3 separate regions of the Homo sapiens genome follow, and all the other regions are linked to region 3. Evidence: fine-mapped expression QTL. A gene starts in region 3. Each other region holds a variant in brackets. All regions are shown on one strand. Distances are between the middles of the regions.

Region 1 (5,222 bases), 23 kb before region 3:
AAACCTGGAGCACAAGAAAAACTCACTATAAGACTTGAACAATCTGGGGCTGGATTTCTGACCTGAGAAGTACATCTGGCAATCAAATATGGAATGAACGGCATCCTCTGAGAGGGCTGCAGAGATGTGCTCACGGGAGAAGGTAACCACAATGAACTGGCCTGTGTGCGGCCAGGTAACCAGAAGGCGGGGCTTTCCCGCAGGCGGCAGCGACTGTAGGAAGATGTCTTTCTCAGCTTAAAACCCAGTTCATCCTCATCCCTGGAGTACAACGACTGTCTATGGAGCAAAGTGTCAGATGGGACCAAATACACATTGGTGGCCTGATATTCAAATGTCATCCTCTCCATGCACATCCCACTAAAAACAAGCTTAGGGGGAAAAAAAAAAAAAAAGCTGTCCACCTGTCCACAGTTGACCTTCATTCCTCTACATCAACCCGTTTCACATAAATCACAATTAACATCTGCATTAAACACCATTAAAAGAACACAAATGTGGTTTGAACTCTTGGACATACTTTCTCTGCATTCAGAGTCAGGAAGACCAGCCAAGATACGGGGCTGGTCCCCGCCCCTTAACGGGATGCGGCACAGAGGCCTTGCCTGAGGGGCCTGCCAGACCCCTTCGTCCCGGCTACCTACTGAGCAAGCGGGGTGGCGGCTCACCAGTGCCGCATGCCAGGCGGAGGGTCTCGCTGCGGCTGGCTTTCTGCTAGGCCAGGCAAGCCCGGTTCCGTGTAGGGCTCCTCAAGATGGTTTCTTAGCTGGGAATTTCCCATGTGCCCCGGAGACCTCCAAAAGCGCGGTCCCCTCGGAAGGCAGCCAGGGAAGGGGCATCACTGAGACTAGAGGCGAAGGCGGCTGCGATCGCCCGGCCGCGCCCACCGCCCCCACAAACGGAAAGGCGCGCCGGGGTCCTCTCGGCCACCTACCTGCCAGGGTCGCAGGAGCCCACGCTTGGCGCACGCTAGCTCCAGGCCGGGGCAGCGGGACGGGGAGGCCCCGAGGGCCAGGCCGCGGAGGCAGGACCCGGCGGAGCCTCGGCCCGGAGCCTGCGGACTCCGGTAAAGACAGAGACCTCCCCCGCCCCAAAAAGCACCCCCCGACCCCGCACCCAGAGCCGGGCTAAGCCCCCACCCTCCGCCTCCCGCCTGAAGCGGGCAGCCTCCCCGCGCTTCCCCGCGCCTGCTGCCCCGGAACTCAGGACCAGCCGGCGCACCTGGCCACGCATCCTCCGGCGGGAGGTGACCACACGGGAACGCGAGGCGGGGGCTTCCTCGCGCCCCGCCGGCCGGACGCAGGGTTATAAGCGCAGCCGGAAGGAGGCGCCCGCGCCGCGGCGGCTCCCGGCTTCGGCACTGCCCGGGCGGGAGGCTCGGCGCGCGTCCGCTCGCGGGGCCACCCGCTCCAGAACCGCCCGCCGGAACCAGCCCGGTGCCCGAGACCCCGAGCTCGGGCGCGAGCAGGATGCGGCTCCCCGGGGACGGTTGGCGCGGGTCGGAGTCCCGAAGCCCCGTTCTTACCTCTGCCTCATACTGCGGTGTCCCTCGGCGCCGGCGTCGCTGTGGCGGGCCAGTGCCGCCCTGTTCCGCAGCCCGAGCGTCCGGCGCGGTAGGTAGCAGCCGGAGAAGCGGCGCAGCCGGGGGATGGGCGGGCACATGGAAGGGCGGGGGTTGTGGCCCTCGGGCCGGACCACGGGACCCCAGCCTCGGGGGCGAGATATCTCAGTACACCTCGAAAACTGGCAAGCGGCCCCCGTCCTCAGGGACTCCATTGCTACTTGCACGCTCAGTCTTGCCAGAATCTCACGGGATATGTGCAAAAGGCAAAGAAATAAGCTGTCGCCACGCCCTTCGTCCTCTCCGTCCCCCTGCAGGATCCATATGGTACATTCCTCAAAGCCCAACGGGAGACGGGAAAGAACTGATTGGTTGGGAATCTTGGAAGGGGCGAGAAGCCACATGAAGTGGCCAATGGAGAAACCCGGTGGGCATATCAAAGCCTGCCCCCGGAGAGAAGAGAGGATGTATTTAAAGGGGACTTGTTGGCCGGGCGCGGTGGCTAACGCCTGTAATCCCAACACTTTGGGGAGCCGAGGCATGCGGATCACTTGAGGTCAAGAGTTCAAGACCAGCCGGGCCAACATGATGAAACCCTGACTCTACTGAAAATACAAAAATTAGCCGGGCGTGGTTGCACGGGCCTGTAGTCCCAGCTACTCTGGAGGCTGAGGCAGGAGAATCACTTGAACCCGGGAGGCGGAAGTTGCAGTGAGCCGAGATGGTGCCACTGCACTACAGCCTGGGCAACAGAGCGAGACTCCATCTAAAGAAAGAAAAAATAATAATAAAGGAGACTTGTTTGTTGCTCTTAGTTGCCGCAAAATGAAACTAGGATTTTCATTCTAGTTGGGAAGCAAAGAGGTTAGGGGGAATTTCAAATTTTTGGAGGAGGGCGCTAAGAGAAAATATAGAGCAGAGGGCGGGCGCGGTGGCACACGCCTGTAATCCCAGCACTTTGGGAGGGAGGCCGAGGCGAGCAGATCACAAGGTCAGGAGCTCGAGGCCGGCCTTACCAACATGGTGAAACCCCGTCTCTACTAAAAATACAAAAAATAGCCAGGCATGGTGGCGCGCGTCTGTAATCTCAGCTACTTAGGAGGCTGAGGCAGGAGAATCGCTTGAACCCAGGAGGCGGAGGTTGAACTGAGCCCAGATCGTGCCATTGCACTCCAGCCTGGACAACAGAGTGAGCCTCTGTCTAAAAAAAAGAAAACGAAAATATAGAGCGAATTGAACCAAATATATCTTGTATGACCTTGAGC[A/T]GGTAAGTACAACCCTCGGCCTCAGTTTCATCATCTGGTCCAATGAGGATACTGGAATGCACTTGGTGTCTGATGGCCTTCACACACTTCATGTGTGATCCTATCATCCTTTGCACAGGAATAGCAATACCTGCAAATATTCTTCAACTTTGAGCATTATCCACTATCTTAAAGAACTTTAGGCTGGGCGCGGTGGCTCACGCCTATAATCCCAGCACTTTGGGAGGCCAAGGCAGGCAGATCACGAGGTCAGGAGATCCAGACCATCCTGGATAACACGGTGAAACCCCATCTCTACTAAAGATACAAAAACAAAATTAGCTGGGCGTGGTGGTGGGCGCCTGTAGTCCCAGCTACTCAGGAGGCTGAGGCAGGATAATGGTGTGAACTCGGGAGGCGGAGCTTTCAGTGAGCCAAGATTGCACCACTGCACTCCAGCCTGGGCAACAGAGCAAGACTCCATCTCAAAAAAAAAAAAAAAAGAACTTTAGTTGAAAGTCGATAGACTTTCTGACACCTACTTTCAGCGACAGTATCAACCCCACCTTTGGTAAAGATGAATCCTGTCTTCTTTCTGGGTCCCTCATCTCTTAGAGAAGAATATTCTTCTTATGTGTGGGGCCCTCCACCTCCAAGTAGTTCATAATTTCTACTTCTCCAGGAAGCACCCCTTTCTCTTCCTTCTCCCTTCCTTCTCATAATCAGACAAAACTTCGATTAATAATTCATTCACCCAATGAGCTGTCCACAATTCCTGCCTTCAGCAACAAACCCCACTGCTCACCCCTCCCTAGAGCTGCGAAAGTGCTCGTCCCTAACTCAATCTGTGACAACCATTCAACCACACATGGCCAATTGTGCTTTCATCCACACTACAAGCCAAATTTCAGACTTTCTAACCACTCCTTGGGGTCTGCTCTGTTTTAGAGCTTTACACCAGCCTGCTAGGCTTACAATTTGGCTACCAAGCTTCAGCTCCATCTTCTTTAGTTCAGAACTTTTCAACCTCCCAACAGCTGGTCACCCCACTGCCACTCAACCAGCTTCCAATCACGCAGGGAGTCTGGGATACCCTTTCTTTATTTTTTTTTTTTTAAGATGGAGTCTCGCTGTGTTGCAAGTCTGGAGTGCGGTGGTGCCATCTCAGCTCACTGCAACCTCCGCCTCCCGGGTTCAACTGATTCTCCTGCCTCAGCCTCCCAAGTAGCTGGGACCACAGATACCTGCCACCACACCTGGCTAATTTTTGTATTTTTAGTAGAGACAGGGTTTCGCCATGTTGGCCAGGATGGTCTCGATCTCCTGACCCTGTGATGTGCCTGCCTCGGCCTCCCAGAGTGCTGGGATTACAGGCATGAGCCACTGCGCCTGGCCCCTGGGATAGCCTTTCTAATACCTCCAGATAACTCATCTTCCAACTATAATCCAAAGAGCTCTGGAAAGTGCATCCCTCCATGAAGCCTTCCAGATTGATTGCCAGAAGCTGCTAGCTTACAGAGCTTCCATTTCTACTCTGTGCCTTGCCATAACCCAACTGTCCATGCTCTCTGCCCCAATATACATTTCTTTTTTTTTTTTTTCTTTTTCTTTTGAGACTGAGTTTCGTTCTTGTTGCCCAGGCTGGAGTGCATGATCTCGGCTCACCACAAACTCCGCCTCCTGGGTTCAAGCGATTCTCCTGCCTCAGCCTCCCGAGTAGCTGGGATTACAGGCATGCGCCAACACGCCCAGCTAATTTTGTATTTTTAGTAGGGACGGGGTTTCTCCATGTTGGTCAGGCTGGTCTTGAAATCCCAACCTCAGGTGATCCACCCGCCTCGGCCTCCCAAAGTGCTGGGATTATAGGCATGAGCCGCCGTGCCCGGCCAATATACATTTCTTATTGACATATTTCCCTATCTCCCTGATGGCCACAGCAGCAGCAGCCACAGCTTACATTTATTAAGTGCTCACTATGTGCTAGGTACTGTTGGGAAGTGCTTTGCCCGCATTATTTAACTTCACCCTCATATCAATTCTGTGATGTTCCTTATTATTCGCCTTAGTACCGTTTTGCCTTCCTGAGGAAAACACAAGAGCTTAGTGAAACTGATCTGCCCGAGTGCACACAGAGGTCTGACATCTAGTGCCCCCACCATAACTCCACAACGCAATACTGTCTTGAGTTTCTTAAGAATCTACTGCATGCCAGATGAAAGATAATCTCATATATTTACTTATTTATTTTTATTTTTATTTTGTTTTTTTTTATTTTTTTTGAGGCAGAGTCACACTCTGTCACCCAGGCTGGAGTACAGTGGCGCAATCTCGGCTCACTGCAACCTCTGCCTCCTGATTTCAAGCGATTCTCATGCCTCAGCCTCCCAAGTAGCTGAGATTACAGGCTCGTGCCACCA
Region 2 (5,222 bases), 32 kb after region 3:
GTCACCCAGGCTGGAGTGCAGTGGCACAATCACGGCTCGCTGCAAGCTCCGCCTTCCGGGTTCACGCCATTCTCCCACCTCAGCCTCCCGAGTAGCTGGGACTACAGGCGCCCGCCACCATGCCCAGCTAATTTTTTGTATTTTTAGTAGAGACAGGGTTTCACCATATTAGCCAGGATGGTCTCAATCTCCTGCCCTTGTGATCTGCCCACCTCGGCCTCCCAAAGTGTTGGGATTACAGGCGTGAGCCACCGCGCCCGGCCAGTCTGCTCCATTTTTTTTACATTCAAAATGCATTTCCCACTGCTAACTACCTCCACTTCCTCCCCCCAGATCTAGGCCACCCTCCTCTCTTCCATGTACCAAAACCCCTACCTATTCTTCCTATCGCCGTTCTTGGCCCCCTCTAGCCCATCCTGTACAAAGCAGCCCAAGAATGGCCTTTCTAAAGTAGATGCCACATCACAGGACTCTTCCCCTTAAAAAACCCAACAGAATCCAAACCCTTTCTGGTGGCCTGCAGTGACAGAGCTGACCCTGCCGGCGTTTGCCGCTCTTTTCCCTCCTCTCCGTTGGTCGCCGTGGCACTGTCCTATGGGCCTTCTTTTTGTCCCCTGAACACACCAAGCTCTTTTCTGACTCTGAGCCCTTCCACTCAATGGTCCATGCTACCTAGCAGCCCCCTCACCTTTCAGGCTGCAACTTTGACACCTGCTCAGACAGGCCTGCCCTAACCTTGTGGGCTAAAGGAGCCCCACATCACTCTCTAGCTGCAGTTTCATTTTGTTTTGTTTTTGAGACAGGGTCTCACTCTATCACCCAGGCTAGAGTGCAGTGGTGTGATCATAGCTCACTGCAAGCTCCGCCTCCTTCCATGATAGCCTCAAACTCCAGGCCTCAATGGATCCTCCCTCCTCGGCCTCTCAAAGGTCTGGGATTACAGGCATGAGCCACTATGCCCGGCCTCTATCTGCATTTTGTGTTCAGTGTACACTTATCAGTACATAAATTATCTTGGCTAGTCGTCATTTCTGTTGTCTATCTCCAACCACCCCCGAAGCCTTTCATCTCTAGCTCCCAGAGCTGGGGACTTGTCTTGTTTACTGCCGTATTCCCAATGCCTAGAGCTCATGTGGCATGCAGCAGGCACTGGCTATGGGTGGAGGTCTCCAGCTCTGCTCCAGCTCCTGTCCCACACGGTGAGTAGCCTTCAGAAAAGGAAGTCCTTGAAAAGTGGAGGCTGGGGCTTTGTTCGGCCTTTCCCTGCCCCTAGGCTTGCGTTCAGCCCGTGGCTGTGTGTCCCTTCCTGGCTTTGCCCCTGATTTGCTCAGTGTGGGTGAGCCATAGCCAGTCTGGTGCTGAGGAAGGGGGTGGATGGGAAGGGCGGGGCCCATATGTCAGTGAGACACAGGCCACAGTTCAGATGGATGGTATCAAGTCTTCATGACTTCAGCTGCACTTAGTTAAACATGGACCAGCCCATTGGAACCTTGTGGGCAGTAGTCTGATTTCTGCTGTCATTTCTGCTCTCTTCCAAGCTTCAATTAAGGGAGCAACAAAAGATCTCTATCATGAGCCATGTGTGGTGATCTCATCTGCTGAGACAAATATTTTTTTTTCTGGTTATATTTATAGAACACTCTCTTGTTTCCTTGAACAACCCTAGCTGGCATTATCTTGTTTACTTTCTCTTCATCTAGATTTGCATTTGCAGGGGGGCAGCTTTTATCTGTTGCTCTTAGCTGTGTGGGATTTCAAATTCCTCTGTTTTTCTTCTTTTAGCTTTCATCTGTGAGCTCTTTTAAAATCAAGCAGTTTGTAACTTATAGTTACCAAGGCAGTAATTAATATTATAAGAAAATAGACAACACCGGCTCCAGCTAAGCACTCTGTGATAATTTTTCTTAGCAGTGTCTTGTGGCCTTGCAGAGGAAAATGGAACTTGGTATTCCTTTCCCCTTTGTGCCAGTCATGTGCTTCCTGATGCCAGGCCTCCCTCCAGCCCTCCCATCACAGGGAAACTAGTACAGACCACCCCCACAGACCTGTGGACTGACACCTGACTACCTTTGGGGGCATCTGACCTTGCCTGCGGTCCCACGGTGACTCACAGTGAAACTAAGATGCACAGCTCGGGTAGGAACCTGCTGGCCCAGCAAGAGAATCTCTTCTTCGGGGACCCATTAAGCTAGGCTCTGTCAGGTGAGGAGAATGGGGACCCTGCAGGCAAGGAGAGACCGTGGGTGGGCTGAAATCTGTTCCTGCAGTCGGGGAAAGGCTGTGGGCTCAAGGAGGCATAAAGAGGCGACACCCAAGCAAAGGCAGCACTGTGCCGACTGTGTCTTTGGTGCCCCTCAACTTCTTCTTTTTTTTTTTTTTTTTTTGAGACAGGGTCTCGCTTTGTCACCCAGGCAGTGTCATGATAATAGCTCACTGCGGCCCTGAATTCCCAGGCTCAAGTGATTCTCCCACCTTAGCCTCCTGAGGAGCTGGGGCTACAGGTGTGGGTCATCATGCCTGGTTACTTTAAAAAAATTTTTTATAGAGACAGGGTCTTGCTTTGTTGCCCAGGCTGGTCTTGAACTCCTGGCCTCAAGTGATCCTCCTGCCTTGGCCTTTCAAAGTGCTGGGATTACAAGCACGAACCACCTCTCCCAGCCTAGGTTCACTTTTGCAAAAGGTGGTTATGGGTGCTTAACGGATCCAGATAGAGACCAAAGTGACTATGGGGTGCATATGTGGAGAAAGAGGAAGAGCTTTTTGTAGTCTAGATGCTCTTTCTGTACTTCCCCCTGGGCAGAAGCAGCAGCCCTGAGCCCCCACAGTGCTCGCCTTGTTCTGGGGACACACAGTGTAGTTGCATATGCCTGAGACACACTCAAATGAGCATCA[T/C]GAGCAAGGCTCAAGGCCCATGACGTCATCCTCTCACTGTTCTTGGCTTTAACTAGAAACTTACTGGTGACTCATGTCCAGTTTTGGCTTTAAAGGTAAAAGAGACTGGGAACAATTGGATACAGTCCATATAAGAACAAATAAAATGAATACTTGGAAAATAGGTCCTATGCGAATACAATTAGGACTACTTAAATTAGACTACAGCAGGCAGATGGAAGAGGTTATTTATATGAGGAATAGTGATAAACTCTTCTCTTTTATGCCTTTTTGGATGTAGATGGGATAGAAATGATATTCCTGCTTTATTTATTTCTCTCTACTGAAAACCAAATAAAAGAAATTGGGCTTGATTTGCAACTGCAGAGATGTAGGGTGGATATAAGGCATTATTTCCATATGTTGTTAGACACTGATCTTTCGGGGTACTTGTTTTTGTTTCTTTTTCTAAAAAATGTGAAAAAGCAAGGCACATCAATGATAGCTTTGCTGCAGTGGAGCTAGTTAATATTTTCTAAGTACCTGAGAACTAGGACCTTGGTAGAACCCCACAGAAGCCAGAAAATATATATTCCCTGTTTTCTGAAAGGTTCTGATATTAGGATTAGCTATTCTGATTGTTTTTATTCCTAAAAGTTAAATGCAGTGGGGTAGAGGGTAGAGCAAGTGGAAGGAAGATGTTGAGCATGTGTCCTGGCTCTGACATTCACTAACTCTCTGACCTTGGGTGAACATAGGGGCCTCATTTACAATGTGGTAATGATGATAGCTTTCCTTCTTAACTCACAGGTCATTAAGTGTGTTAAACAGCATCACAAATATGACAGCGGGCCATAAACTGTTGAGTGCTATACAAAGACAGAAACTATTCTTAATTTGGATAAACCATCCTTGATCAAATGTGTTTCCAGCTAAAAATTCTTGATGGAACTTGATTCCCAGGTTTGAATTTCAAAACCTGTGTAGTCCACGCATTCGAACAACCTCCTGTCCACCCACCCACTTGCCTCTCAGAGAATGTCTACTCTGTGGTAGGCACTGTAACAGGCATGGCGATGCCACGATGAATCTCACACAGTGCCTGGCTATGTGGGAAGGCAGATGACAGTCTGGTCAGGGTGGAGAGAGAAGGAAACAGGTCATTACAGTGCAGAGCGGTGAGCCCTCTGATCTGGCCAGGCATAGGTGCTGCAGGACCTCACCTGGGGGCCCCAGATCCAGCCTGGTGAGGACAGAAGGAAACTTCTTAGAAGTGCTCGCCAACCCAGGCTTGAGTGATAGAAGTTAGCCAAATGAAGAAGGAATGGGTTGGGGAGGACCCTAGCACCCAGAAGCAAAGTGAAAGCTCAGTACACTGCAAGACCTGCTGGTAAAGTTAAAGGTTACACGTTGCCCATGCAGGAGGACAGGGGAGAAGGGAGGCATGTCAACCAGAAGCCACCCCACGCCCAGCTTGTCTGCCTTGTTAGGGAGTTTGGACTTTATCTTGAGGTCAATAGAGAGCCTCTGAGAGGTTTTAAATAGGGAGTGTTAAGATCGGATTGAAATGTCAGAGATGTCACTCCTAATGCGATGTTGAGGATGAACTGGAGTGGGCAGGACGCTGGTCAGGAAGACCAGCAAGACTGTTGCAGCAATTTTGGGAGGAATGGAGGTGGCCTGACTAGGAGACGGTAGATTGGTCAAGAGTTTCAATGATGCAAGCAGATAGGACCATTGTTACAGAAGGAAGAAAAGGAGTGAGAAAGTTGGAAAGATAGGATGTTGAGATCAGAGAGTGGAAGATAAAATAGTTTCTGATGATGGCTGGGACCAGGGTGTAGCCTTCAGAATGGAGCTGAAAAATGAGTGGAGATGAAGGTCATGTGACATGAGGTCAAGGATGTGGGAGGTTTCTCCTAGGGCTTTAAAAAAATGTGGTAGAATATATGTAACACAAAATTAACCATCTTAACCTTTTTTTTTTTTTTGGAGATAGAGTCTTGCTCTGTCACCCAGGCTGGAGCGCAGTGGTGTGATGTTGGCTCACTGCAAGCTCCGTCTCCCAGGTTCACACCATTCTCCTGCCTCAGCCTCCCGTGTAGCTGGGACTACAGGCACCCGCCACCAAGCCTGGCTAATTTTTTGTATTTTTAGGAGAGACGGGGTTTTACTGTGTTAGCCAGGATGGTCTTGATCTCCTGACTTCGTGATCTGCCCGCCTCAGCCTCCCAAAGTGTTGGGATTACAGGCATGAGCCACCGTGACTGGCCCCCCATCTTAACTATTTTTAAGTGTATTAAGTACATTGTATGAAGAACATTAAGTGTGTTAAGTGGCATTAAGTACAT
Region 3 (5,222 bases):
GTGGTGTGATCTTGGCTCACTGCAACCTCCACCTCCCTGGCTCAAGCTATTCTCATGCCTCAGCCTCCCGAGTAGCTGGGACTACAGGCATGCACCACCACACCTGGTTAATTTTTGTATTTTTAGTAGAGACTGAGTTTCACTATGTTGGCCAGGCTGGTCTCCAACTCCTGGCCCCAAGTGATCTGCCTACCTCGGGCTCCCAAAGTGCTGGGATTACAGGCCTGAGCCTCTGCGCCCAGCCCCCTCTTCTGCTTTCTAAGTGTCCATTCTCCTTGTAGTGAGTGGGTGGTGGGGGGATATACACATGTGACTCTGGTTAGTACATAGGCAGCCATGAAGTCCACAAATGTACAGGGAGCCACAGCTTTCATGCTACAGACTTGCAAAGGTATGCATCTGCTTTCCCCTTGCCCTGGAATATAGATCAGAACACTTCATTTAGTGAAGGGACCTGTTCCGAGAGTGATGATCCCTCCCTCGTTTGAGACACTGCCTTCATCCTGAGCTTCTTGGAGCAGCCCAAGGCCCTGCCAGCTCTCTTTGCCTGTAGCTTGTAGGCATTTATGACAGTTGCATACCCTGCCCTCCAACGGCAGCCTGAGAGACTGAACTATTACCAAGTTCACCTGGAAAAATGTCACCCTGATTGATTAGAATGGTGGGTGGCCATCTTAGCTCATTAGAATCACCTGGGAAGTTAAAAAAAAAAAATCCAGTATGCACTCCAAATTTTCCCACCACCACTCCTCCCCACAAAAAGAAAATTTAAAAAATCCCAGTGTTTGGGCCATATCCCAGACCAATTAAGTCAGAATCTCCAGGGATTGGACCCAGGTAGCAGGATTTCTAAAAATCTCCCCAGCAGCCAGGCCTGAGAGCTAATGAATAGCACCACAGGGCCCAGCCTTTCAGCCTACAGCTTGTCTCGGTTTCACCCTTTTTTCATTTCTTTACAATGAAAATTCTAAATAGTTGATCACAGTGCCAGACCAATAAGAAAGCATTTTAGGGAGGAGAGAGGAGGGAAGGGGTTGGCAGGCACGGAGAGGACTTGACACACAGAAAGCATTTTGCTATGGAGTCATAACCATTTGATTCTAAGACACATGCAGCCTCCAGAAGTCATGCGGCCCCGCCCTCTGCTTCCAGGAGGGAATGAACTTGGCCGTCCTTTTGTTGCACACGCCCGGGAGCTGCGCCGGCGCAGCGCGCCCTGCAGCCTGGGAGCGCAAGCGTGTGCGCCACTGGTCCTGGGCCACCACCGCGCGCCGCGGGCGGGTGCAGGGCCCCTCTGCCGCAGGGAAACCGGCGTTCCCCGCGCAAAGCAGCCGCTGCTCCTAATGAGCTCATGGGTTCACCGCGCTGAGCTAGCCAGAGCGGACCCGGCTTCGCCAAGGGCCTGCTGGCTGTCCTGACACCTGGCCTACCTCGGGGGTGCCTGGGTACGCTCTTCCTTTGCCTGCGGGATAGAAGCACAATGAAAATGGGGTGGACGTGGCTGGGAGACAGCCCTGCTCTCTGGCAGGCTCTGGGGAGTGTGTGGTACGTGGCATCCGCACTGGTGGGTGTCGTGCGATGATCGAGACACGGATACTGGGTGTCTTTCCCACTAGGGGAGAGAGGGCTGCGTTTAGAGGGAAACGAAATAGATCCGAGAAACACAAAGATGTCACAAAGGAAACGCTTCCCCACCATAAGCAATCTAAATAAATGATTCTTAGAAGACATCCAGCAAAACACATAACCTTGTCATTTAGATTCGCTCGCCCACAGGGGGACTGGAGGGTACTCACCGACTAGGGCTTCACAGCCGCATCACCGCCGGCGGTGGGCGCCTGCCTCGGCAGGGGCAGGGTGGGTGCCCGCAGGGCACAGGTGCCGCCGTGGCTGCTCGCACAACCCCTGCAGCTGCGATCCCGCCCAGTTAGCCTCGGGGGCTGCACAGCCCAGCCCCCTCGCCCAGGGCCCAGGGGTTCTCAGGCCGCGCGGCGAGGACGGAGGGCTGCCCCGGGTGCCTGCCTACGCGGGCGCTCCCCGCCGGGACTCCGCCGGGGCTGCAGGAGCGCGCGCTGCTGGCTGGGCGGGCTGCGGCTCCGCGCGAGCGCCGTGGCAACGCGAGCGGGCGCCCCCAGGAGGCCGCGGAGCTGCGGCGTGGGACGCTTGGGTGAGGCTCAAGCCAAAACCAAACCCAAACCATTTCTCCTCCTCCCCATCTTTTCATTTTCTCCCCTTCTTTTCATTTTCTCCCCTTCTCCAACCCCTTCCTCGACACACGTTACTAGCACCTCGAAGGTTGGAAATTCCAGCACTCTCCTGAGGCCTCTTCCCCAGCGAATCCTGCTAACCACGCAGTCGGTGTTCGCTGTGTGTTCGAGCACACACCTCCTTGCAGTGGCTTCAGCACCCAGGTCTCCGGGAGCCAGTGAAGGAACCAAGTGTTGGATACTGAGCAAGTCGCGTAACATCTGAGTAGTCGTGAAATTGAAATTTCAACGGTATAAAGGACACGACGTTGTCTTACAGATTGAAAAATGCTATAAAATGAAGTTCTTACTGTTACTATGATGATGACCCTGGAGATCAGCGCAGAGCCCTGGGGGAGGGCTACAGTTGCAAGCGCTCCAAGGATCAGATCGCGCACTCCTCCCCACCGGAGAAAACCTCTTGATGCCGGAGCCCGGGCAGCCTCTTCCACACTTCCAGCCAGCCCCTTCCACACTTCCAGCCAGCCCCGGCATTGCCACAGCCCGTGGAGCTGGACAGAAATCCACCAGGCACTAAAATAAGTTAGATGGAAGACGGGATGGATTTGACCAAATTCCTATCAGCATCTGCTCAGTATAATTGCAACATTATAATCAGAGCAGAAAGAAGCCCAGAGATTATTTTGTCTTCAAGGATCATTGGCCTCAGTATTATCTCCATCTGAAGCTGTGTTGTCCAAAGCAGATTGACTCCAGCCGGCCAGCTCAGAAGAGGGCCGACTCTGGGCTGGCGACTCCTTGAGAAGGGCTCTCTCTGGTCCCAGGTGGTATTTACTTAACCGTATCATCATCTGCTTCATTCGTGTTCCCTTCATGTCCATCATGTGAGGACGGGAACTGACAGGGCCAGGGTGTCGGCTCAGAGGCAATCTCTGCTCATCCTCTAGAGCCCCACTTCATCACCCAGCCACTCTGTCCACTGTCTCCCCACCTACAAACCTGCAGGTGTTCTGCCCCAGTACTAGAATAAGGGAACACATTTTTACTGAGCTCTGACAATGTGACTGGGCTTTTCAGGAGCTATTTCATTTAATTTTTAATGTAAAACATTGTTTTACATATTAAGAACCTAAAAGCACAAACAGTAAGTAACTTGCTTGTGGAAGCTTATGCAGCGAGATAAGTGGTAAAGCTGCAATTCCCAGTTTTGTTTGATGCCACAGCTGAAGGTGCAAGGCCATCTGGGCACGGCCTGAGTGGATATTAGGGAAAAATGCCCTAAAAGGTCCAGAATCTCTAATAATTTCTCCTACTTCTCATTTTATTTTATTTTTGACGCTGGAGTTTTTTTTTTTTTTTTGAGTCAGGATCTTGCTCTATTGCCCAGGCTGGAGGGCAGTGGTGCAATTTCAGCTCACTGCAACCTCTGCCTCCCAAGTTCAAGCGATTCTCCTGCCTCAGCCTCCTGCATAGCTGGGACTACAGGCATGCACCACCATACCCAGCTAATTTTTGTGGAGATGGGGTTTTGCCACATGGCCCAGGCTGGTCTCAAACTCCTGAGCTCAAGCGATCTGCCCTCATCAGCCTCCCAAAGTGCTGGGATAACAGGCATGAGCCACTGCACTAGGCGAAAACGTTTATTTTAGAAAAACTGAAAAATATAGAAACATAAAGGAAGAAAAGCATTCATAATCTCATCACCTAGAGAAAGCCATTAGTAATATTCATATTTCTTTCCAGTCTTTTTTCTAGCTTTCTAGCTTTAAACTAAGTTGAGATAAAACCACACACACACACACACAGACACACAAGTGCATCCTGCTTTTTGTTAAAAATAACTTTGTGGGAAATTCTTCCTCCTTTGAGGATTTTTAAAAAACATTAATTTAAATGTCATACAATATTTTTATCATATGAATATCTCATAATTTCCCTTTTATTGAATATTTCCAACTTTTATTGATTGTAAATAATGGCAATAAAATTTTTTCTTCATAAATCTTGCTCCTATGTGTGAATAATTTCCTTCCAGGTGAGTCCCAGAAGTGGAATATTGAGTCCAAGGGTATTAACATTTTAAAGACTTTCCAATCCTCTCCAATGGGGATATCCAACTCACCCAGCCCCGTTCCCCACAGGACCTGCACGGTCCCACTCCACTGCCCTCCACACATCTGTTGTGCCCTCACCTGGTATATAGCATTTAAATTATTTAGCTCACAAACTCTTTGGGAAACTAGGGTTAGTTCTTTGTAGCTTTTTGGTTGATTATTTTGATTTACTCAGAAAAACGCAGTATCTCCTTTACTATTTTAAAATCCTCAATAAGTAAGAATAGGGAGAGAAAATAAGAGAAAGGGGTGAGCTTTCCAAGGCCCTGGGTTAAGCCAGGGATGCCGGAGCTTGGAGCTCACTTGATACTGACCCTGCTGATGGCCTCAGCCTCAGTCCTGCTATAGAAAAGCTGCCCTGTCCCTCTGATCCTCACGTTTTAATCTCAGCATTTACTGCTGATGGGATGATTGGGTAAATTGAAAAACTTGTCAGAGAGGGTTAGGCTTTGATGGGTGGGGTAGGGGAGACCTCTCAGGAAAAGCAACTAGAGTAATAGAACTGTCAAAGGTTGGCAATAAGGCTGTGTGATCTCGCTGATGGTTCTCCAAGATGAAATGAAACCTAATGCTGCTTTCTTCTTCCTTGAGAGAAGATAGCAAAGAGGGCAGAAGGTGAGGGCTGGGGGCTCAATGTCAACTCTAGAATCTCTTTAAACCTTTTCAGCGTTTGTTTTTTTCCCCACTGAGAAAGTTAAGTGTGATGGGAGGGAATCTAGTCCTTTTGACTATTTTAAAATGTACCTTCTAAAATCAGATCAGGCCAAAAGGTTTTTTACTCTTGAATAAATTTAGGGCTAAAGGCTGTTGGAAAATTAATAGGAGTGGATTCAACGTGGCAATAGATCTTTTATAAATTCTCTTATTGAGTGAATTTCTGAATACTGAAAACAGTGTTTAG

Evidence for each region.
Region 1: its variant is fine-mapped to the expression of MICAL3 in whole blood (TOPMed, PIP above 0.99). The same link has a PIP of 0.9 or more in blood mononuclear cells.
Region 2: its variant is fine-mapped to the expression of MICAL3 in esophagus muscle (GTEx, PIP above 0.99).

What each region holds. Positions count from the first base shown.
Region 1 is chr22:17,999,868-18,005,089 of GRCh38, forward strand. All of the region lies in intron 1 of MICAL3 (microtubule associated monooxygenase, calponin and LIM domain containing 3), which reads right to left. Among named protein-coding and RNA genes, the nearest start is that of MIR648, 22 kb to the left of the region's middle. RefSeq lists silencers at 869-978, 1,109-1,298, 1,309-1,688 and an enhancer at 1,624-2,320. The variant A/T (reference allele first, on the strand shown) is at 2,827.
Region 2 is chr22:18,054,919-18,060,140 of GRCh38, forward strand. It overlaps LOC105372853 (a long non-coding RNA gene), which reads left to right and starts at 1,041. Exons shown (of 6, transcript XR_001755424.2): 1 at 1,041-1,199. The variant T/C (reference allele first, on the strand shown) is at 2,893.
Region 3 is chr22:18,022,485-18,027,706 of GRCh38, forward strand. It overlaps MICAL3 (microtubule associated monooxygenase, calponin and LIM domain containing 3), which reads right to left and starts at 2,077. Exons shown (of 32, transcript NM_015241.3): 1 at 1,797-2,077. RefSeq lists a silencer at 1,805-2,214.